Linked DNA regions of Homo sapiens: region 2 is linked to region 1. The links come from fine-mapping of genetic effects on gene expression. A gene starts in region 1. The other region holds a variant in brackets. All regions are shown on one strand. Distances are between the middles of the regions. Region 1 holds the start of RBM22 (RNA binding motif protein 22). Region 2 overlaps DCTN4 (dynactin subunit 4).

Region 1 (11,401 bases):
CCACTTCTGCAGCCTGCCGTGTGGCAAACTGGATGAAAGCACACTGCTGTCTCTGCACAACAGTGATCGTCCGGATCTCTCCGAACTGGTAGAAATGATTTCTGAAGGGAAACAGGCAGAGAAAAATGAAAGTGGGAGTTAAAAAAGATGTACCCAGGAGACTGAAAATGGATTAACTTTCACTGACACACCACTAGGCAGGTGGGCCCCAAGGTTATCTGCCTAACTACCCGCAGGTCTCCACCCCATATCTTGTCCTACTGTGGGTGCTGCTGATTGAGAGAAGGAAAGAAAAATAATGAGTAAATAAAGGTTCTCAAACATCTCAGGGTTTTTTCCCATGGAGGAAAGGGGGTTCTAATAGGTTCTTTAAAGACCCTAAACCCTAGATAAGAGGTTGGCAAACCATAGCTCTCAAGGCCCATGAGCCAAGAAAGTTTAAAACAAGAATACGTGACAGAGACTGCATGTGGCCCACAATGCCTAAAATATTCACCATCCAGCCTCTTACAGCGAAAGTCTGCCAACCCCTGGGGGTTGTCTAGCTCACTTAGATAGGGTTTAATGGAGACAGGCTACCAAGGGCAGGTTATAAACTTACAGGAGTTTCTTCTCCACTTTATCTCTTTGGAAGAGGTAATTTCCATTACTATCTGCCCAGAAGTCTCATCTAGCCAAGCATAATACAAGCCAAAAATAACACAAATTTATCAAATGCCAGTCTCTTTAAAAACCAACAATTTAAACCACAAGAGTTTTATCATCGCAAAGCTCTCCCTCCTCTACATAATTCATCATACTTGGATGCGTGCCATCCTTTAAAACTTGGCTGTTAGGTCAAATAGAATCCTATGTCATTATTACCATATGCCAGGATGGATAAGCACTCTTTGAGCTTTGGTTCTGAGACAGGGTCTCACTCTGTTGCTTAGGCTGGAGTGCAGTGGTGCAATCACAGCTCACTGCAGCCTTGATCTCCCAAGCTCAAGCAATCCTCCTGCCTCAGCCTCCCAAACAGCTGGGACTACAGGCACATGCCACCACACCCGGCTAATTTTTTTGATTTCTTAGTAGAGATGTGGTCTCACTATGTTGCTCAGGCTGGTCTCAAACTCCTCGGTTCAAGAGATCCTCCCAAAGTGTTGAGATTACAGGCATGAGGCACTGTGCCCAGCCACATAAGCACATTATTACTGTGGCACCATAAAGGACAATTTTACAAAAATTCCAGTCAGCATGATACTAACAATAGAGAGACTACAGAAAAATGTATTTTGTACAGAATGATCATTCTTGCAGTTTTTGCAAATAAATTATTCCAGGGCAGTTAAAGGCAAAAATAACTCTCTAACTTATACCCACAAACCTTAAATCTGTCTCAGTAATGGTATCACCTAGACCACCAACATATAGTGTGGTGATAGTTTTATCCTCTGGTGGGTCCAGCCGAGGCATTGTTGAAGCCCGCTTTAGAAGCTTGTCAGCTACAGGATCATTGATTCCGTAATAACGGTCTTTAATATTCTGATCAGCAAGGGGGTCATCTGGATCTGTAGGCTTCTCATGTCTATGATTCAAGAAAAAAACAAGGCATAAAGGTGAAACGAAGGTGAAAAAATGATTATCTTCCAAGAGTAGCTACATATTAAAGTCCTAGATACATATTCTGAAGTGCCTTTTGAACTAGAAACTATGGTTTCTACCAAAATATAATTACCAAAATAGACCTAATACCAAGAGATTTACTGTATCACGGAAGGAATTACTAGCCTCCTAAAAGCCATTAGGCCATCTAGGATGCCAAACTTTCCTTATAAATAAATACTCTTGACATGATCCACCCCCTCCCGCCCCCCAGAAAGGGACACATGATTACCCCTCTCTAGGTCAATGATTCTTAACACATTTGGGGTGCTGTATTCCACTGAGAATCTGATTAAAGCTATGAACCTCGCCCCAGAGAAAGCACATACATTATTTTTTAGGGGGTGGGGTTAACCAATCCCAAATTAAGAACTCCTAATCCAGATGCTTGGCAGTCTTAACCAAAACATACACACCCTTTAGAAGTCTGACCTTACTTTGACTTCAACTATACATTGAGAGTCAACTCATTTAAACCATGGCAGTGAAGATTTACTTCTCAGGCAGAAATGTTTAGGGTCAGCATCTATATTGTATGGCATAGCAATTTAGTTTCCAAGGCTCAATTGTAAGTAAAAACTACAATTTATTCATGCTCTTCTAAATTTCATAGTTCTAAGACATGAGGTATACCACATTAGTTGTATGACCTTTAGATTTTAAAGCAGAAACAGTTTAAGTTAGGACCTCCCACTTCTTAGATGAGAAATCATCTGAAAGCAAATACTGAAAATGAGGCTCGCTCTTGCCTGTATGGACATTCCTCTCCTCTCTTACACTCTCCTTTCACCCAGAAGGAGCAAATGTGGGGTCGATTCCTTTTGTAGTAGGGTGTGGTCCGGGCCAGTTTGAGCAGCATGTCACTGGTAGATGTGGCTTTCCCCAGCATGCCAACTGGCCGTGTTCCATCAGAGTTAGAAATCTAAGTGGGGATGACAAATTCAAAAGATAAATTATACAGACTGTGTCAATTCATTAGGATTTTTATCCAAAAAGTGGCAGCATACCTCTCTCTCCATATTCTGTGTATAGTACTCTTTGTTGACATCTGACTTTGGCATGTCATCTTTAAAAGACAATCCTGCGTCACGAACCTGGATGGGCAGGCCTGGTACAAAAAAAGAGGAAAAAGACCTCAGATGTATTTTAAAACATATCCATACTAACCATGCACACAGAATACATCATCTTTCCCTTCTCCTCTTTCCTATTTAGTACCAGAGACTTTACTATGTTTTTATTCAAACTCTTTAGCACCATCAGGTTACTTCTGCTACACAGCATGCTAAGAAATTGTCCAAATTCCTGAACTGTCAGGAAATTTGATGAAATTAATGCTTTAGAAAAAATCTTTTAGGCTGGGTGTGGTGGCTCATGCCTGTAATCCTAGCACTTTGCAAGGCTGGAGCTGACAGATAGCTTGAGTCCAGGAGTTCGAGACCAGCCTGGTCAACGTGGTGAAACCCCATTTCTACAAAAAATACAAAAATTAGCTGGGTGTGGTGGTATGCACCTGTAGTCCTAGCTACCCAGGAGGCTGAGGTGGATCACCTGAGCTTGGAAAGGTTAAGGCTGCAGTGAGCCATGACCATGCCACTGCACTCCAGCCTGGGCAACAGAGTGACACCCTGTCTCAAAAACAAAAAACAAAAAAATTATAAAAGAAAATTTTTAGATGAACAAACTGTGCCCATGGTCATATTCAACCTGTAAATTAGCTCCTAGTTTTTATTACAACATGATTTATTTAAAGTAAATGTAAAAGTGGTTTCTTTCTAGGTTAGTCTTACAGATCCTCTGGATAGTCACAGTCATCTAAGGGTCACTGTACTCCAGGACCAGACGCCTCCTTAACAAACATATAAATAATATTACATAAAATGTGGCCAGGACTCTGACTAGAAGAGTAACTCTAATGAACTTAACATACATAAACTCATATATTTTTCCCTTTCCTTTAATAGTAAAAACTCTTGTTGAAAAATTATCTTTCTGAAAAACAGTCACCTATGGTTAAAAAAAAAATTACTCCCAAAAGCAGTTACTCTGAAACAGTAGCAATATATCAGTTCTAACAACACAATTGAAATAAAAGTCTAAAGCACAATTAGGCTGGCTATAGTGGCTCTGGGAGGCCAAGGTGGGAGGACTGCTTGAGGCCAGAAGCTCAAAACCAGCCTGGGCAAAATAGTGACACACACACACACGTGCACTGGGTGTGGTGGTATACCAGGAGGCAGAGGCAAGAGGATCCCTTGAGCCCAGGAGTTCGAAGTTGCAGTGAGCTGTGATCACACCACTGTACTCTAGCCTGGGTGTCAGAGTGAGACCCTAACTCAAAAAATAAAATAAAATAAAGCACAATTACCCTGTGAGCTTCTGATTGGGATGGTGGAAAAAAGCTCTGGATCAAGAAAGAAGCCTAAGGCAAATAAATTATCTATCATAGGATCAACGCCTTTTACCTCACTTGGGCTACAGAGATGAAGGTTTAGGCCACTTTTGATTAATTCCCAACTTTTCCTTAAGTTCCTACTATTGTTCAGGACTCTAGAGTGGCCTAATTATGGTTCTTTTCCTGGGAAAAGCAGACCACGGCAGACATTCCAAAGTGAAATCAGAACCAGAGCTAGGGTGCGAAGTGGGAGACAAAAGACTGACTTGTAGTTTTAGGCACCTGCACACTTTCAGATTTATTGGACAGGTCAAACATACCATACTCTAGGTCTAAGAGGCAGGTCTGACAGACATTCTTCAATTTACTGCAGGTTTGGCACACTTCAGTCTTCTTGAAACGCATGCGGACTCCAGGGCACCAGCGAAACACTGTGAATGGCCTGGCACAGATCTGGAACACAAAGCAAGAGCCATAGAATGTCAATGGTCCTGATCTGGGCAATCTGGAGATCTGATAACAACGGGGCATTCAAAAAAGGATCCCTGAATGTAGGATTTAGAAGAGACCTTAGCAATCATCTAGTTGATTTGATGTTTCAATACAATTTTCAGCATCCTTCTCCAGCAAAAATTCAGAGTACAGAAATGAAATAGCCAAAGGGTCAAAGTTCTTCCCATCCTAGAGCTAAGCACCAATAATAATCTGAACCTTAATCTTTTTTAGGGGGAGTGGGGAGTGTCATGTAATTTTTTGAGAAGCTTCTGACAAGAATGACCTTCCTCCTCAGCTAAAATGCTCGAGTGGACAGTCATACACCACCTGGTGTACAAACTCCTCCAGTGCCCATCCACTGACACCGTAAGAATCTCTACATTAGAGGGTTCATTTTCTTACCTCCCACATAAACAGTTGCCAGCCAATGAATATATCAGTAATACATAAAAAGTTGTATAGCACTGATTTTTACTGGAAGACCTCAAAACTTAGTAAGCTGAAGGCTAATTTGGTAGAGAAAAGAAAAATGAAACAGAAATCATTACTCTTTAACAGACATACTTACTTTGCATTCCTTCCCATACTTTTCTTTGGTCTATAATAGAAAAAAAATAGAAAAGAACTGGAGTTACAGAAAGAAAAAAGCCAGATGTCTACTCTTTCCTTAAACATAACCCAAGAAATGTGTCTGGAAATCCCTGGCATCCTAGAGAGAGAAAAACAGCAACAACAAAACCCAAAACCCAACCTTTTTTGGGAAGAGGGTAGGGAACATACTATAACAACATATTATAAGTGATAACATCTCAAGAGTATATGGATCTGGGCTGGGTGGCAGTGGCTCACGCCTGTAATCCCAACACTTTGAGAGGCCAAGGTGGAAGGATTGCTTGAGCCCAGGAGTTCCAGACTAGCCTGGGCAACATAGCGAGATGCTGTCTCTACAGAAAAAAGAAATAGAGTATATGCATCTAATGCTAGGTAAGTGAGTGTCTTTCCACAGCCACAACTCTTAGGTTCATTTTTGGCTCCCAAGTTCACTCCCAAGAACTAACATTCCTAATGCTTTCCACAATCCCTAAATCAGAGAGGATACAGCTGTGGCCCGCCCACTTTACAAAGTTTAGTCAAAAGGTAGCTACTGTAGACTTGTCCTGTGCCAATGCCCGGAATATAGTAAATGTTCTGTTTAAACAGAACTATTCAAACATCTTGAACCATTCAAACATCGTGAACATACTAACATATCAACACCTCTACGACTACACAATAATACAGCCCTAACCTTATTATTGTTAACTGGTTCTAATTTTACCCTAGTTTGTAACAAAGGGGGAATGCTTACTTTAAAGAGATAAAGTACACTGGCCAAAAGGCATTTGACCAGGATTCAGGAAACCTAGTTTCTAGTTCTGGTTCTCCTCCTATCATGCTGACATTCCTAGAGCCAGAATATGTGAACTTAAATCCCAGCTCCATTCCTTACTATTGTATGAAAAGACACAAACGCTCTCACCTTCTGGTCAACAGACCTATTTCCTAGGTAAATGCTCAACAAATACTAGCTATCGTTATTACCCCTACATTACAGGAGTGTTACCGGATTCGTAAGAGAATACACATGACAGTTCTTTGCAAGTCGTCCAGCACTTCGCGTTAGTAAAAGAGCATCATTTTTTCTGCTTGTCTAAGAGAAACACTTCACAGTGTGCAAGTACCACAACATCGACAGGACATGAATAACTCGTTTCACACGCGATCACTCACCATTCGGATATATGGGTTTTCTCCAAGACATGTCTGGCACAGAATGGGGAAGTCCTGGTGAAAATGGGAAATCTGGTTGAGGACCACCCTCCGAAGACCCTGACACCTCAGTGACACTTGGGGTGGCGAGGGGGCGGGAAGCGAGGGTGGGGAACTAGGCACGGCAGGAACCCGAAGTCCATCACGACCCGATCGCGGGAGGGGGCGCTGTCTGCACTTCCGGCAGGCGGCGGGAGAAAAGAAAACCAGCTCTAATAGGCTGGAGGGGGCAGGGATGGAAAGGGTGCTGGTCCCGGGACCCTGGCTAAGCCCCCTCCCTTCAAGCCCGCAGGAGGATCGCCCTCCGCCCTCCTGCTCCGGCCAAGCTAGGCCGCCGCGCTGGCTCCTCCCCGGTATTCCTTCGGCCGCGCCGCAGGCCCTGTCCTGCCAGCTTGCAAGGTGCGCGGCTTCGCCTCCTCCTTCCATCCTCCTCCGGCAGGCACACTCACCGCATCCTCCCAGTTCTGCCTGTTGTAGGTGTTGGAACCCAGAGAGGTCGCCATCTTGAGAGCGTCCGGAGGTAGCTGTAGCTTCCGAATTGGGAGAGAGGACCGCCACAATCCCGTCAAGCCCCGAGGCTAGCGCCGCGCCGGTCGGCGTCTTATTTACGCGTCTAGGGCTTCTTCCGGGGCGGGGCCTTTGCGTCATGACGTCGCCCGCTCTTGGAATTTCTAAGCTTAACAATTGGGGTCCTGGTATAATGCACCTGGATGCTTCCTTCGAGTTTTTGCCTGCTTGGAATGAAGGGCCACACGTACAGTTGATTCATTTAACAATTGGGCGAAAGAATAAAGGAAGACGTAATGCATCAGAGGCTGGGGTTAAAATAGCGTTCGCTACCACTGAGGCGCTTATTATGCCAAACTCTGGGCGAACGTCTTGCGGTTCCAGTGTCTTATTTATTCGCATAACCTCTCTGTAGGGCTCTCTGTAGGGCTGCCAGATTCTGATTCTGTCTCTCTCTCTCTCTCTCTCTCTCTCTCTCTCTCTCTGTCACTCACACACACACATGCACACACACACACGCACGAATTACAGAACGTCTAAAGTTGAATTTCAGATTAACGGCGAATCGCTTTTTAATTATAAATATATATGGTACCTACTCGTCCTAAAGTAGGATTCGTGGTTGACCTGAAATTCACATCACTTAACCAATCGTCCTGTATTTTATCTGGTAACTCTACCCTGTAGGCAAGTATGATGATCCCTCTTTTATAGAAAAGAAAACAGGTTTAGAGAGATTAACCTAATCTCTCCTGATATAGCTCCTGGTTGTGGAGCTAAAAAGTGGTGAAGCCACAAATTCATTAGTACTGTTTCATTTCCAGCTTCTGAAATGACAAGGGTCTTACGAATCAACATATGCATTATTTGATTTTTGGAATAACTCATAACCACTCTGCCAATATTTTATGAGTTTCAAGCCATTCTGGTACCACTTTCATACTTACCGTGTCATCAAGCTACCTAACACATTTATTTAAATCACCTCATTAAAAAAAAAAGTTGATTTAAAGTATAATTTACATAAAGTTTTATCCTTTTTAGTTTTGAATTTTGTACATACATTCACTTACAGTCAAATATGGAATTGTCTGTCATCCCCAAAGTTCCCTTGTTTCTGTAGTTAGTCCACTTATCCCATACTCAAACCATGGCAATCACTAATTTGTGTTCTGTCCCTAGTTTTGCCTTTTCCAGAATGTCACATAAGTGGAATCCTATATATCCTTTTGGATCTGATATTTTTTCACTTAGTATTTTGTAGTTGAGATTCATCCATATTATTACATGTATCAATAATTTCTTCCTTTGTATTACTGAGTAGAATTCCATTGTATGGATATATCATACAATTCACTTGCCAGTTGCTGGATATTTGGGTTGTTCCCAGATTTTAGTGAATATAAATAAAACCATTATAAACATTCACATACAGATCGTTGTATGGACATTGGTTTTCATTTTGCTTGTGTAAATGCCTTAGAGTGAGATTATTTGATCATATGGTAAGTATATCTTTTCCTTTATAAGAAAGTCCTTGGGTTTATCTGAGCTTCTTGGATCTGTGATTTGTTGTCTTTTATTATATTTGGAAAATTCTCAAGTATCATCTCTTCAGACTGTCTTCTGCCTGGTTTCTACATCTGTGACTCCAATTTCACATGCCTTGTGAGGAGTGCAAGGTCAGAAATAACAGAGTCCACGTACATTTGTGTTTTTCCACAATGCCAGACTTTTACTGATGCTATTTCAATCACAAAAGCCACGAACTACATGGAGTTTCCAAGAAAGCAATTCTCCTTAGTACTTCCCACTCACTCAGCACTCAGAGTCTTGGACACACAGGCTCAAGGCACTCCACAGGTCAATCAATATTGCAAATCATGCATAATGGTATACTTAATCAACATATATATTATAGAGTGAACATTCCACAAACAAAATAACATTTAACATTAAGAGAAAAGAGATAGGACCCTTTTCTCCTTTAAGTCTGGAGCCCTCAGAATCATCTCCTTTCCTTCCTTTTTCCCTCTTTCCTCCCCCAATTTATTTTTTAATCTTTGTGGGACATGACTTCTAGGAATGAGCCTTCCTAGCAACATGGAACATGACTTCCTAGGAATGAGCCTTCCTAGTAACGTGAGACCTGAATTTCCTGGAATAAACCATCCTAGCGACAAGAAACCAGCTCAAAAAAGGAGGAAAAAGCGAACTGAGGCCAGGAACACATATTCCTTTTAAAATGCTTTCTCCAAAAGATGTTAAAGAAAAAAAGGGGGAAATGTGAAAGGAAATTAAATCTTGGGACCCCAGACTCATTAAGCCAAAGGGAAAAGTCAAGCTGGGAAGTGGGTCACACAAACCTGCCTCCCGCTTTTGGTTCCTAAATAAGATGGCTACAAGATGGAAAGCTACATGCCTCCCCCATATTTTGCCCACAAGGAAATTCCTAGTGAGGAATTTTACTTTCCTAGAAAGGAAAAAAGAAAAGAGATGAAAAAATATATATAGGGACTAGGCCAGATTTATAGCAACAAAAGGAAAGCAAACCTGGAAGCTGGGTCAAGCTTTATTATATTACTGCCTCCTCAATTAAAGCAATTCTCTGGGCAATCATTACCTTAGCCCTTTCGGTTGCATATTGACTTATTTGCAAACACGTACTATAACAACATTGTAAGCAGAAACAGGACAGAACATAAATTATTCCTTCTATTATAAGCAATAGCTTCTGCCACTAAATTCCCCAGGATCCAAACCAACCACTCAAGCAATGGATTAGTGAGGGTTTTGGATCTGACAGTTGCTTATCTGGGTTTTCATACTGGTCATAATTCAGTTTATGTTCTTTGATTCATCTGGAATATACACACAACATTCAGTTTTTACGGTGGCACAGGTTCCCCTTGTGCTGCCATGAGTATATCTAAAGCCACATAGTTTTGCAACACAGCTTTCCTCATAAGCATGACCTCATTGCTTAGCAAAGAGGTACTCATGCAGCTACCATTTAGGGCCTTTGGGTGTAATTCGTTATGGCCTCTATATGCCATATAACATCTTCGATACCTATCTGTGGTACAAAGATTGAAGCTAAGTGATCATAGCACTGGAATACCAAACATGTCCAATGAGATTGTAAATGAAAAAGGTTTGCTGGTTTAATGGAAGGGTCTGAATTACTGGGCAACATATGGGGGAGGCATGTAGCTTTTCATCTTATAGCCATCTTATTTAGGAACCAAAAGCAGGAGGCAGGTTTGTGTGACCCAGTTCCCAGCTCGACTTTTCCCTTTGGCTTAATGAGTTTGGGGTCCCAAGATTTAATTTCCTTTCACAATATATATAATCCATATTTTCCTTTTCTTTTTTTTCGAGATGGGGGTCTCACTTTGTCACCCAGGCATGATCATAGCTCACTGTTACCTGGAATTCTTGGGTTCAAGGGATCCTCCAGCCTTAGCCTCCCAAGTAGCTGTGACTATAGAAGCAGGCCACGGTGCCCAGCTAATTTTTAACTTTTTTGTAGAGACAGGGTCTCACCATGTTGCCCAAGCTGGTCTCGGAACTCCTGGGCTCAAGTGATTCTCCAGCCTTGGCCTCCCAAAGTGCTGGGATTACAAGTGTGAGCCATGGCACCTGGCTCCATGTTTTCCACCAGATTTTTTAACATTGTAGGGGCCAACAGAAAAGTTCCCCTTTGCCCTCTTAAGATTCACTGAAAATTAACTAGCAAAAGGCAGATTAATAGGAGAAAAGACATACAAATTTATTTGATCATAGTTTTACCTGACATAGGAGCCTTCAGAATGAAGACACAGATGGGAAATTGTCCATTTATATGCCTAGGTTCAACAAAGTATGGACAGCTATGTAGAAATAGGATTGGACAAAAAGCGTACTGATTTAGCGCTAATAGACTGAGTGGGGAAACCCAGCGAGGCCTGTCTGTCTAGATTCTTGGCCTCTCTCGGCAGCATTCCTTCCTTCTGGGTATGTACAGGACCGTCTTTGGAATGGGGGTCTTATGACCTACAATCTAAAACAAAGTAGCTCAGATAATTTATTCAGAGCCAGTTTTTACACAAAAGCAAGGCGGAAGTTAGAGTAGTTTTTTTTTTTTTTTTTTTTTTTGAGACAGAGTCTTGCTCTGTCGCCCAGGCTGGAGTGCAATGGTGCGATCTCGGCTCACTGCAACCTCCACCTCCCAAGTTCAAGTAATTCTCCTGCCTCAGCCTCCTGAGTAGCGGGGATTACAGGCACGCACCACCATGCCTGGCTAATTTTTGTATTTTCAGTAGAGACAGGGTTTCATCATGTTGGTCAGGCTGGTCTCGAACTCCTGACTTTGTGATCCACCTGCCTCTGCCTCCCAAAGTGCTGGGATTACAGGTGTGAGCCACCGCGCCCGGCCTAGAGTAGTATTTTACATTTTATGGCTGGCTTTGGGGAAAAGGGGTTCTCTCTATGACCCACCTTGAGGAAAAGGGATTCAGTGTCTGTGGCTAGGCTTGGGGAAGAATGAAGGGCCAGAGACAGGAAGGCAGA
Region 2 (11,401 bases), 34 kb after region 1:
TGAATCTTTTTTTTAAACAAATTATCCCTCTTTTAAAAAAATTAGTGTTTGTCCAATATTTTTCCCACTTCTCTCTACTTTCAACTTTTCTGAGTTCTCATGTTTGTGCTTCTTGTAATAAGCATATAGATGGATCACTGCAATTTGCTTTATTATTTAGACTGACAATGTTTGTCTTTTAATGGAAGCATTTAGTTCATTGGTATTTAATGTAAATACTGATACATCTGGATTTTAATCTACTATCTTACCACACACAATCTTTTTTTTTTTTTTAACAGACAGGGTCTTGCTTCGTCACCCAGGCTGGAGTGCAGTGGTGTGATTACTGCTCACAGCAGCCTCAACTTCCTGGGCTCAAGCAATTCTCCTGCCTCAGCCTCCTGACTTGCTGGGACTACAAGTGTGTGAACCACCACACTGGCTTTTTTTTTTTTTTTTTTTTTTTTTTTTTTTTGGTAGAGACAGGGTCTCACTATGTTGCCTAGGCTGATCTCAAACTCCTGGGCTCAAGTGATCTTCCTGCCTTGGCCTCTCAAAGTGTTGTGATTACAGGCATGAGCCCAGGCTTTCTATTTGAACTACCAATTCAATGTTCCTTTGCCCCTTCTTTTTCTTTCTTTTTATAAAGGTTTTTCATTATAGAAATTTTCTAACGTGTACAAAAATATAGAATGGTATTACAAATCTCTAGGTACCCATCACCCAACTTCAACGATTATCAACTTCGGAATATATATGCAGGACTTGAATCTATGCTCTCAGGTTAAACAAACAAAAAGAATCAGCATCTTGTTATCAAAAATTAGCAACAATGGCCAATCTTGTTTCATTTATACTCTTACCCATTCCTCATCCCTCATTATTTTGCAACAAATATCAGAGACCAAGTCATTTCCTCCATAAATATTTCTGTATGTATCTCCAAAAGATAAAGACATTAAAAAACAAACAAACAAAGTACTATCATTATTCCTAAAAAAGAAAAAATACTTTTTTTTTTTTTTTAAGAGACAGGGTCTTTCTGTGTTGCCTAGGCTGGAGTGCAGTGGCTATTCACAGGCACCATCATCACACACTACAGTCTCAAACTCCTCAGGCTCAAGGGATTCTCCTGCCTCAGCTTCCAGAGTAGCTGGGACTACAAGTGCATGTCACTGTGCCCTGCCCAATAGTTTTTTAATAGCATCGAAAATGCTACCAGTGTTTAAATTTTCTCAAAGATTTCACAAATTTTTCTTTCCTTCTTTCCTCTTTCCCTTCTTCCCTCCTCCCCTGGGCCCTTTCTTTCTGTTTTGTTTGAATCCGAATCTACGTAAACTCTATACATTGTGTTTGGTAAACTTTTAAGTCTCTTCTAATCTAGAGAATGATTAAGTAACATTAGCCACTAGCGACATGTGGTTATTTAAATGAAATTAAAGACTGACTCAGTACCTCAGCTGCACTATCACATTTCATGTGCTCAAGAGCCACATGTGCCTAGTGGCTATCATGCGGGACTGTACAGACACAGAATACTTCCATCACCATAGAAAGTTCTGTTGGATAGTACTCCTCTAAAAGGTTTCTTTTCCATTTTGTTTTTACAATTTATTTATTGAAGAAACTCTGTCATTTGTTCTGTAGATTACCAGAGCCTGGATTTTGCTGATTTTTCTTGCTTTCTTTTAAATTGATTATTTTTTATTGGTCCTCCCTGAGCCTGAACACTAGCCTAAAAGTTCACACTCTTTCACTATTCTTTTAGGGGTTAACCCTATGTACTTAACCTTCAGATACTTCATTTTCTACATTTGTAAAACAGGTTTAACAGTAGTACCTACCTCACAGAGTTGTAAGAGCTGTTTATATTGAAAGCATTTAAAATAGTGCCTGGCAATTAGTATGTTCTCTACAAGTATTTTCTGTATTTAATACATTCCAAAGGTTTTGACATTAGTCAGACACCAGCCACATTTATTTTTGCTTTCCTCTTGTACAAATGGTCAGTCTACAGAATGGAATACTTACACGGCAGCGCAGGGACCGTTTGATCAGAAGATGTTTGTGGCGAGGATAGAGCTGTGAAGCACAGACTGGCTGGAAGTCAGGCTGTAACAGACGCTGCTGAAGGGTTGTTACTAGAAAGAAAGGCAGAAAACAGGCTTAGTTTACAGTGACTTTCAAAATCAGACTTTTATGTACCAGTAATTACACGAAGCATTACTGCCTTTACGAACAGTGTTGTTCATAAAAATGAAAATATAGAAAGTTGACATTTTAGATTTCAAACAATTACCTCTATTACAGCTGTTTTATTTTCTACATATTGTTTTTACTACTAACAGCTATTCCATTAAAAATCTCAAATCACTAGGTACATAAATAACAAAAACAGAATTAGATGTAGACTAGAAACAAAGTAGAAAAACACAGAAAATTACCCTCTGTTAAATTTACTGGTCTTGTATAATAGTCTTCAGGTAGAGGTTCCACTTCATCCACAGCCTGAGCTGGCTCAATCTTTATCTCTTTCTGATCCTCTCCTTCTTTAAGGCTGAAAAATTAAAAAAACAAAACAAAACAAAACAAAAGAGTAATTTCTCACGGATCCACCTGATTATCCTCAGTCTATGATATCAATAATTGAAGTATTCCTCTGTCATAGAATATCTGTATAGCGTAGGTCTTTTCTAAGTATGAGAATCTTCTTTTCCATTGACAACTGTGTGTGTGTGTGTGTTTTAATCTCATTTATTTGATATTCATTTTGATACCTGCTGTTCTCCTCAAAGTCATTTCATGTCTAAACTTACGAAAGTCCGGCAAGGGTACTGATGGATGCACCAGCTCGTGGTCGCTGAAGCCTGGTTCCAAGACCATATTTGTCCTAAACAAAGTTCAGAAATTCCTATTAGAAAGTCCACTTTTACACACCCTATTTATCAAAAGAAAGAATTTTGGGTAGGATAGCATGAGAAGCTCAGGGAAATAAGCAAAAAAAAAGCTAATCTAAAGGCTTCTTTTAAAGAAAGCAATTTGTAGCCCCACATCATTATTCTATTCTTAAAATAATAACAGCACTAAACATGGAGATTGAAACTATATTAATACAGTAAAAATGAACCAAATGTGAGCTTCTGCTAGTAATCTAAAAGTATCTAAGCTACGGCTCAGGCAAGAACTATGTGGAGTGTCTAAGATACACAACAGACGTCTTCCTGGAACACCAGTGGTCATCTGCTAACTTCTTCAGGGTCAGCAAGAATCATAAAGGAGAACTTACCACTACATGAATAGTATGTTGCTGTAGAGCCCCAAAATAGCAGCAGGTTGCAACAGAGACAAAAAATGCAGCATAAGATAGAAGCAAACGCATATAGCAGGCAGGTTATATGGGAAAATTGGAAGAATAATTCATTTAATTCAAATTCTACCTCTAAATATAACACACATTGGTGCATATGCTGACTATACCACTGGACTATTCAGAAAAATTCACTTCTTTTTGCAAATGTAGGTGCTTTGCAAGTGTTAATGTTTTTAAATTCTAATCTAGATTTTTTTTGAGACAGAGTCTCACTCCGTCACCCAGGCTGGAGTGCAGTGGCGCTATCTTGGCTCACTGCAACCTCCGCCTCCTGGGTTCAAGCGATTCTCATGCCTCAGCCTCCCAAGTAGCTGAGATTATAGGCGTGCGCCACCATGCCCAGCTAATTTTTTGTATTTTTAGTAGAGACAGGGTTTCGCCATGTTGGCCAGACTGGTCTTGAAATCCTGACCTCAAGTGATCCCCCCGCCTCAGCCTCCCAAAGTGCTGGGATTACAGGCGTGAGCCACTGCACCCAGCTTAATCTAGGTATTTTTATATGGACTTTACCAACCCTTAGGGTTTCAATGACTTAACTAATTTTCATGTGGATGCAGTATGACAAGTTGCTTAACTAGGTCCCATTTCCTCAAGCGTAAAATGGGGATATGATACTCCACAGGATTTTTGTGAGGATTAAGTAAAGTAATACATGTAAAGTGTTTATTTAGCACAGAGCTTGACACATCATTGCCATTCAATAAATGTTATTTATTGAATGTCAATTTGCTGGGCCCCAAGCAAGCACACAGAAAACAAACTGTACTATGAGAGCAAATAAAACTCGGGGTAAAATAACAAAAATTCCAAATCCTAATTTCTTTCTTCTTACTAGCAGTACGTAAACTGGTAGAGAATGACTCTCATAAATAATTCTTATCAAAAATTCTACTTGCATATATTACTATTTAACCACACAAGTGCACTATGTAAAAAGTCAGTGTTTTTCATCTTGGAGAAACAGGGGAGGATGTTAAAAAAATTATAACTAAAGCTGAGAAACCACTACTGCCAGGATGTCAAAGGTGGGCTACAGGGGTAATATGACTGAAATCTACCATTTGCCCACCTCCTTCTTCTCAGACTTTCTGTAATACACAAAAGCTGTACGTGGAACTCTGCAGTGCCTACAAAATTAACAGCCTTTCTGGGGAAATAATCAGAAGATAAAGGGGAGTGATGGAGAAAGAAACACAAATGTCCTCAAAACACAAATAACTCAAACAGAACTAATGATATAGCAAAAGCCTAACTATTGGACTTAAACGTCTATAATTTGAAGAATCCCTCTCTCTGATATCCACCATTCAGGAATCTAGGACAATGGCCATTTTCTGAAATGATCACTGTTCTTAGGCCTTAGAGGTCTTGCAAATCATTTTAGTACCAAATTCTCACCGAAAAAGCCAGAGGCATATAGTTTCTACGTCGTGCCAGTTTCTTGCGATCTCGCTCAACCTTCTCTTTCTGAGCAAGCTGCTGGTAATATTCAATCAATTTGTTCATCTGTAAGAAAATCACAGACTCAGTACACAAAAAAGCTAACAGAAAAC[A/G]TATCAAATTAATCAACTACACTGACTAGACACATAATGAATAGAGAAGACAAATTATTAAGATGGGCAAGTTTGCCCTTTTTCTTCTAAGATAATTTTTCTTCGTTATGTGATCTGTTTTCCGAAGTGAAATGGAAAACTGAAGTTCAAGGATGGGAAGAAATGGGCAATGAAGAGGCTTGGAAATTTTTTGCTCTCTAACTTCATTACTTATTTCCCCTCACAACTGCTCTTATTTTTTTTCTGCATGGCCACAGGACCACTTATTTCTAAGAACATAGCATTTTATACTGTATTTTATTCCCCAACTCCATCACACTTTTTAATTTTTAAAATACATTTTAATTATAAAAGCAATACATATTAATCATAAAAAGTTCAAACCAGGATGGGCACAGTGGCTCACGCCTACAATTCCAGCACTTTGGGAGGCTGAAGTGGGTAGATCACTTGGGGCCAGGAGTTCAAAACCAGCCTGGACAACAGAGTGAGACCTTGTCTCTATAAAAAAATGCAAAAATTAGCTGGGCATGGTGGTGTATGCCTATAGTCCCAGCTACTCAAGAGGATGAGGTGGCAAAAAAAAAATGGCAGATAGGAGGCAGGACTAACTTGCAGCTTCCCCTCAGACAGACAGAACAACATGTGGAGACTCACACTGTGAATTTTTATTCCAAGAACTACTGCAGGAACATACTAGGAAAACTGAAAGAATTCACAGACCCTTTAAAAGAAGTGGCTTGCTGCTGCAAAATCCATGAGACAGCAGAAAATCTGTGAGTGCCCATGTGTAAGAGGGGGAAAATCCACCTTCAAACACACATCCTCACTGGAGAACCTAAAAATCCAGATCATGGGAGAAAAATTTAACCTTACCTAGTGCTGAAACAAAATTTAGAGAGCCGAGTGAAATATAAAAATAGAAGAAGCAACAGCGGGAAGAGCCCTGTAGGCACTCCCGGTTCCCAGTGAAGCCCAGGGAAGTCATTTCTGACTTTAATCTCACAGGGGTCCTTGGGGAGTGCTGCCAGTGGAACTGAGGAAGGACCACTTGGAGACAGAAACTTCCAGGTGAACTTTGTAATAACTTTGACGGAGAGCAAATTTTCCTGGGCACAATCAAGATGGGGAAGGCGTAAAGGGGAAGTACAGATATGAGCACATAAGCCACAGCAGTCGGGAAGGGGCGGAGTCCAAAAGGCTAGCTTGCTTTTTCAGCAAGTAGGCTTGTAGCCTGGGCCAAAATCTTGGCCCTGCAAACCCCATGCTGTTGGTGGGGCATGGTGGGAGTGAGACTGGCCTTGCTGGCTGCATGGGAGCTGGGTGAAGCCTGTCACTGCTGGCTTTCCCCTACTTCCCTGGCCACCAGTATGACACAGCAGAGGCAGCCATAATCCCCCTGGGAACATAACTCCATTGGCCTGAGAACCACACAACTGTCCTTCACAGCAGCTGCAGCAAACCCTGCCCAAGGAGATTCTGAGCTCAGATATGCCCCCACCTGATGGTCTTTCTCTACCTGCCCTGGTAGCCCAAGACAAAAGACTGTAAACTCTTGGGAGCTTTATGGCCCCACTGATCACCTGGGAAACCCAAATACTTATCCAGGCAACCTTAGGGCAAGCTTGTATCCCCACCACACTACTGCAGCTGATGCTTTCTTGAAAGCGCCACCTCCTGGCTGGAGGCCAACCAACTCATTATAGCAACTCATAAAAGAACAACCCTGCCCTCAAAAGGAGAAAACAACAGCTAATTCCACCACCTGTGACATCCTGGCTAACCAGAGGTCCTGAGTCTGTCCACGTGACAATTCACTGCTAGCACAACCAGCATTAAAGAAAACTAGCATACGAAACCAAACTACAACCAAGGACCCTCACAGAGTCCACTTCACTCTCCTGCTATCTCCACCAGAGCAGGTGCTGGTATCCACAACTGAGAGACCTGAAGACGGACTGCATCACTGGACTCTTTGCAGACACTCCCCAGTACCAGCTCGGAGACTGATAGCTCTGGCCGGGTGGCTAGACCCAGAGCAGCAATAACAATAATTGCAGTCCAGCTCTCAGGAAGCCACAGGGGGAGAGCACCACATCAAGGAACAATGTCGTAGGACAAAATAATCTGAACAGTAGCCCTCAAGCCCCAGATCTTTCCTCTGACATAGTCTACCCAAATGAGAAGGAACCAGAAAAACAATTCTGGTAATATGACAAAGCAAGGTTCTTTAACACCCCAAAAAGATTACACTAGTTCACCAGCAATGGATCCAAACCAAGAAGAAAACTCTGAATTGTCAGAAAAAAAATTTAGAAGGCCAACTATTAAGCTACTCAAAAAGCTACTCAAAGGGGCACCAGAGAAAGGTGAAAACCAACTTAAGGGAATTAAAAAAAAAAAAAAAAATACAGGTTATGGACAAAAAAAATCTCCAGAGAAAGACAGCATAAATAATAAACAATCACAATTTTTGAAATGACAGACACACTTAGACAAGGCTTTTGAATTAACCCAATCTGACAAATACAAAGAAAAAAGAATAATAACAATAATAATAAAAAATAAAGCCTCTAAGAAGTCTGGGATTATATTAAGCTACCAAAACTAAGAATTGGTGTTCCCAAGGAAGAAGAGAAATCTAAAGGTTTGGAAAACTTACTTGAGGAAAGAATAGAAGAAAACTTCCCTGGCCTTGCTAGAGATCTAGACATCCAAATACAAGAAGCTCAAAGAACACCTGAGAAATTCATCGCAAAAAGATCACCACCTAGGCACACAGTCATCAGGTTATCTAAAGTCAAGACAAAGGAAAGAATCTTAAGAGTTATGAGGCAAAAACATCAGATAACCTATAAAGGAAAACCTATCAGGTTAACAGCAGATTTCTTGGCGAAACCCTACAAGCTAGAAGGGACTGGGGTCCTATCTTTAGCCTCCTTAAACAAAACAATTATCAACCAAGAATTCTGTATCCAGCGAAACTAAGCTTTGTAAATGAATGAAGGATAAAGTCTTTTTCAGACACACAAATGCTGAGAGAATTTGTCAGTACCAAGCCAGCACTACAAGAGGTGCTCAAAGGAGTTCTAAATCCTGAAACAAAACCTTGAAACACACCAAAATATAACCTCCTTAAAGCATAAGTCTCACAGGGCCTATAAAACAATAACACAATGAAAAAAAAAATCTAAGTATTCAGGCAACAACTAGCACAATGAATAGAATAGTACCTCACATCTCAATACTAATGTTAAATGTAAATGGCCTAAATGCTCCACTTAAAAAATACAGAATTACAGAATGGATAACAATTTACCAACCAAGTATCTGCCGTCTTCAAGAGACTCACCTAACACCTAAGGACTCACATAAACTTATGGTAAAGGGGTAAAAAAAGATATTCCATGCAAATGGACACCAAAAGTGAGCAGGAGTAGCTATTCTTATATCAGACAAAACAGACTTTAAAGCAACAACAGTTAAAAAAGACAAAGTGGGACATTATATAATGATAAAAGGACTAGTCCAACAGGAAATATCACAATCCTAAATATATATGCACCTAACACTGGAGCTCCAAAATTTATAAAACAATTACTACTACGCCTAAGAAATGAGATACAAAGCAACACAAAAATAGTGGGGGACTTCAACGCTCCACCAACAGCACTAGACAGGTCATCAAGATAGATGGTCAACAAAGAAACAATGGACTTACACTATACCCTAGAACAAATGGACTTAACAGATATTTACAGATCATTCTACCCAACAACTGCAGAAGATACATTCTATTCATTAGCACATAGAATATTCTCTAAGATAGAACATACGAGAGGCCACAAAACACGTCTCAATACATTTAAGAAAACTGAAATTATATGAAGTACTCGCTCAGACAGCAGTGGAATAAAATGGAAAATCACCTCCAAAAGGAACTCTTGAAACGATGCAAATTGCATGGAAATTAAATAATCTCCTTCTGAATGATCACTGGGTCAACAATGAAATCAGGATGGAAATTTAAAAACTCTCTGATCTGCATGATAATAGTGAGACACAACCTATCAAAAGCTCTGGGATACAGCAAAAGCAGTGCTAAGAAGAAAGTTCATAGCATTAAATACCTACATCAAAAAGTCTAAAAGAGTACAGGAGACAATCTAGGGTCATACCTTAAAGAACCAGAGAAACAAGAACAAACCAAACCCAAACCTAGCAGAAGAAAAGAAATAACAAAGATGAGAGCAGAACTAAATGAAACTGAAACAAAAGAGACAATAAAAAAGATAAATGAAACGAAAAGCTGGCTCTTTGAAAAGATAAACCAAATTGATAGAATGTGAGATTAACCAAGAAAAGATGAGAGAAGATCCAAATAAGCTCAATTAGAAATGAAATGGGAGATATTACAACTGATACCACAGAAACAGAAAAGATCATTCAGGGCTACCATGAACACCTTTATGCACACAAACTGGAAAACCTAGAGGAGATGGATAAATTCCTGGAAATATACAACCCTCCTAGATTAAACCAGGAAGAAATAGGAACTCTGAACAGACCAGTAACAAGCAGTGAGATTGAAATGGTAATTAAAAAAAACTGTCCACAAAAAAAAAGCCTAGGACCAGATGGATTCACAGCTGATTTCTATCAGACATTCAAAGAATAATTTTTATGAATCCTACTGAAACTATTCCAAAAGATAAAGAGGGAATCCTCCCTAAATCATTCTATGAATCCAGCATCGCCCTTATACCGAAACCAGGAAGGGACACAACAAAACAAGAAAACTACAGACAGATATCCCTGATGAACATGGATGCAAAAATCCTTAACGAAATACTAGTTAACTGGATCCAACAGCATATCATAAAGATAATACACCATGATCAAGTGGGTTTAATACCAGGGATGCAGGGATGGTTTGAAATACCCAAGTCAATAAATGTAATACACCACATAAACAGAATTAAAAACAAAAATCACAGGATCATCTCAATAGACAGAGAAATAGCATTTGACAAAATCCAGCATCCTTTATGAGCAAAACCCTCAGCAAAATCAGCATAGAAGGAACATGCCTTAAGTAAAAGCCATCTACGACAAACACAGAGCCAACATTATACTGAACAGGGAAAAGTTGAAAACATTCCAGCTGAGAACTGGAACAAGACAAGGATGCCCACTTTTACCACTTCTATTCAACACAGTACTGGAAGTCTTAGCCAGAGCAATCAGACAAGGAAAGAAATAAAGGGCATCCAAATCAGTAAAGAGGAAGTCAAACTGTTGCTGTTTGCCAATGATATGATCGTATGCCTAGAAAACCCTAGAGACTTATCCAAAAAGCTCCTAGATCTGATCAATGAATTCAATAAAAGGTTGGGCACAGTGGCTCATGCCTGTAACCCGAACACTTTGGGAGGCCGAGGTGGACAGATCACTTGAGGTCAGGAGCTCGAGACCAGCCTGGCCAACATGGTAAAACCCCATCTGCACTAAAAATATGCGTGGTAGCGGGCGCCTGTAATCCCAGCTACTCAGGAGGCTGAGGTAAGAGAATCGCTGGAACTTGAGAGGCAGAAGTTGCAGTGAGCTGAGTTTGCACCATTGCACTCCAGTCTGGCTGACAGAGAGAGATTTCATCTCAAAAAAAAAAAAAAAAGTTTTGAATTCAGTAAAGTTTCAGGATATGAAATCAATGTACAGAAATCAGTAGCACTGCTATACACCAACAGTGACCAAGCTGAGAATAAAATCAAGAACTCAACCCTGTTTACAACAGCCGCAAAAACCCCACCCAAAAAACAAAAACAAAATGCTTAGGAATATACCTAGCCAAGGAGGTGAAAGACCTCTACAAGAAAAACTACAAAACACTGTTGAAAGAAATCACAGATAACACAAACAAATGGAAACATATCCCATGCTCATGGCTGGGTAGAATAAATACTGTGAAAATGACCATACTGCCAAAGCAATCTGCAAATTCAATGCAATTCCCACCAAAATACCATCATCATTCTTCACAGAACTAGTAAAAACAATCCTAAAATTCACATGGAACCAAAAAAGAGCCTACATAGCCAAAGCAAGACTAAGCAAAAAGAACAACTCTGGAGGCATCACATTACTTGACTTCAAACTATATATAAGACTATAGTCACCAACGCAGCATAATACTGGTATAAAAATAGGCACACAGATCAATGAAACAGAATAGAGAACCCAGAAATAAACCAAATACTTATAGCCAACTGATCTTTGACAAAGCAAACAAAAACATAAACTGGGGAAAGGACATCCTATTCAATAAATGGTGCTGGGATAATTGGCAACCTAAATGTAGAAGAATGAAACTGGATCCTCATCTCTCACCTTATACAAAAATCAACTCAAGATGTATCAAAGACTTAAATCTAAGACCTGAAACCATAAAAATTCTAGAAGATAACATGAGAAAAATCCTTCTAGACATTGGCTTAGG

Evidence for each region. PIP is the estimated chance that this variant, and not a neighbour inherited with it, causes the effect.
Region 2: its variant is fine-mapped to the expression of RBM22 in whole blood (TOPMed, PIP above 0.99).

The regions. Positions count from the first base shown.
Region 1 is chr5:150,694,140-150,705,540 of GRCh38, forward strand. It overlaps RBM22 (RNA binding motif protein 22), which reads right to left and starts at 6,923. Exons shown (of 11, transcript NM_018047.3): 1 at 6,793-6,923; 2 at 6,305-6,358; 3 at 5,103-5,132; 4 at 4,360-4,492; 5 at 2,652-2,752; 6 at 2,394-2,566; 7 at 1,367-1,567; 8 at 1-101. The coding sequence starts at 6,846. RefSeq lists enhancers at 6,165-6,941, 6,942-7,718.
Region 2 is chr5:150,728,618-150,740,018 of GRCh38, forward strand. It overlaps DCTN4 (dynactin subunit 4), which reads right to left. Exons shown (of 13, transcript NM_016221.4): 5 at 4,751-4,858; 6 at 2,799-2,872; 7 at 2,427-2,539; 8 at 2,014-2,123. Among named protein-coding and RNA genes, the nearest start is that of DCTN4, 25 kb to the right of the region's middle. RefSeq lists an enhancer at 6,312-6,541. The variant A/G (reference allele first, on the strand shown) is at 4,906.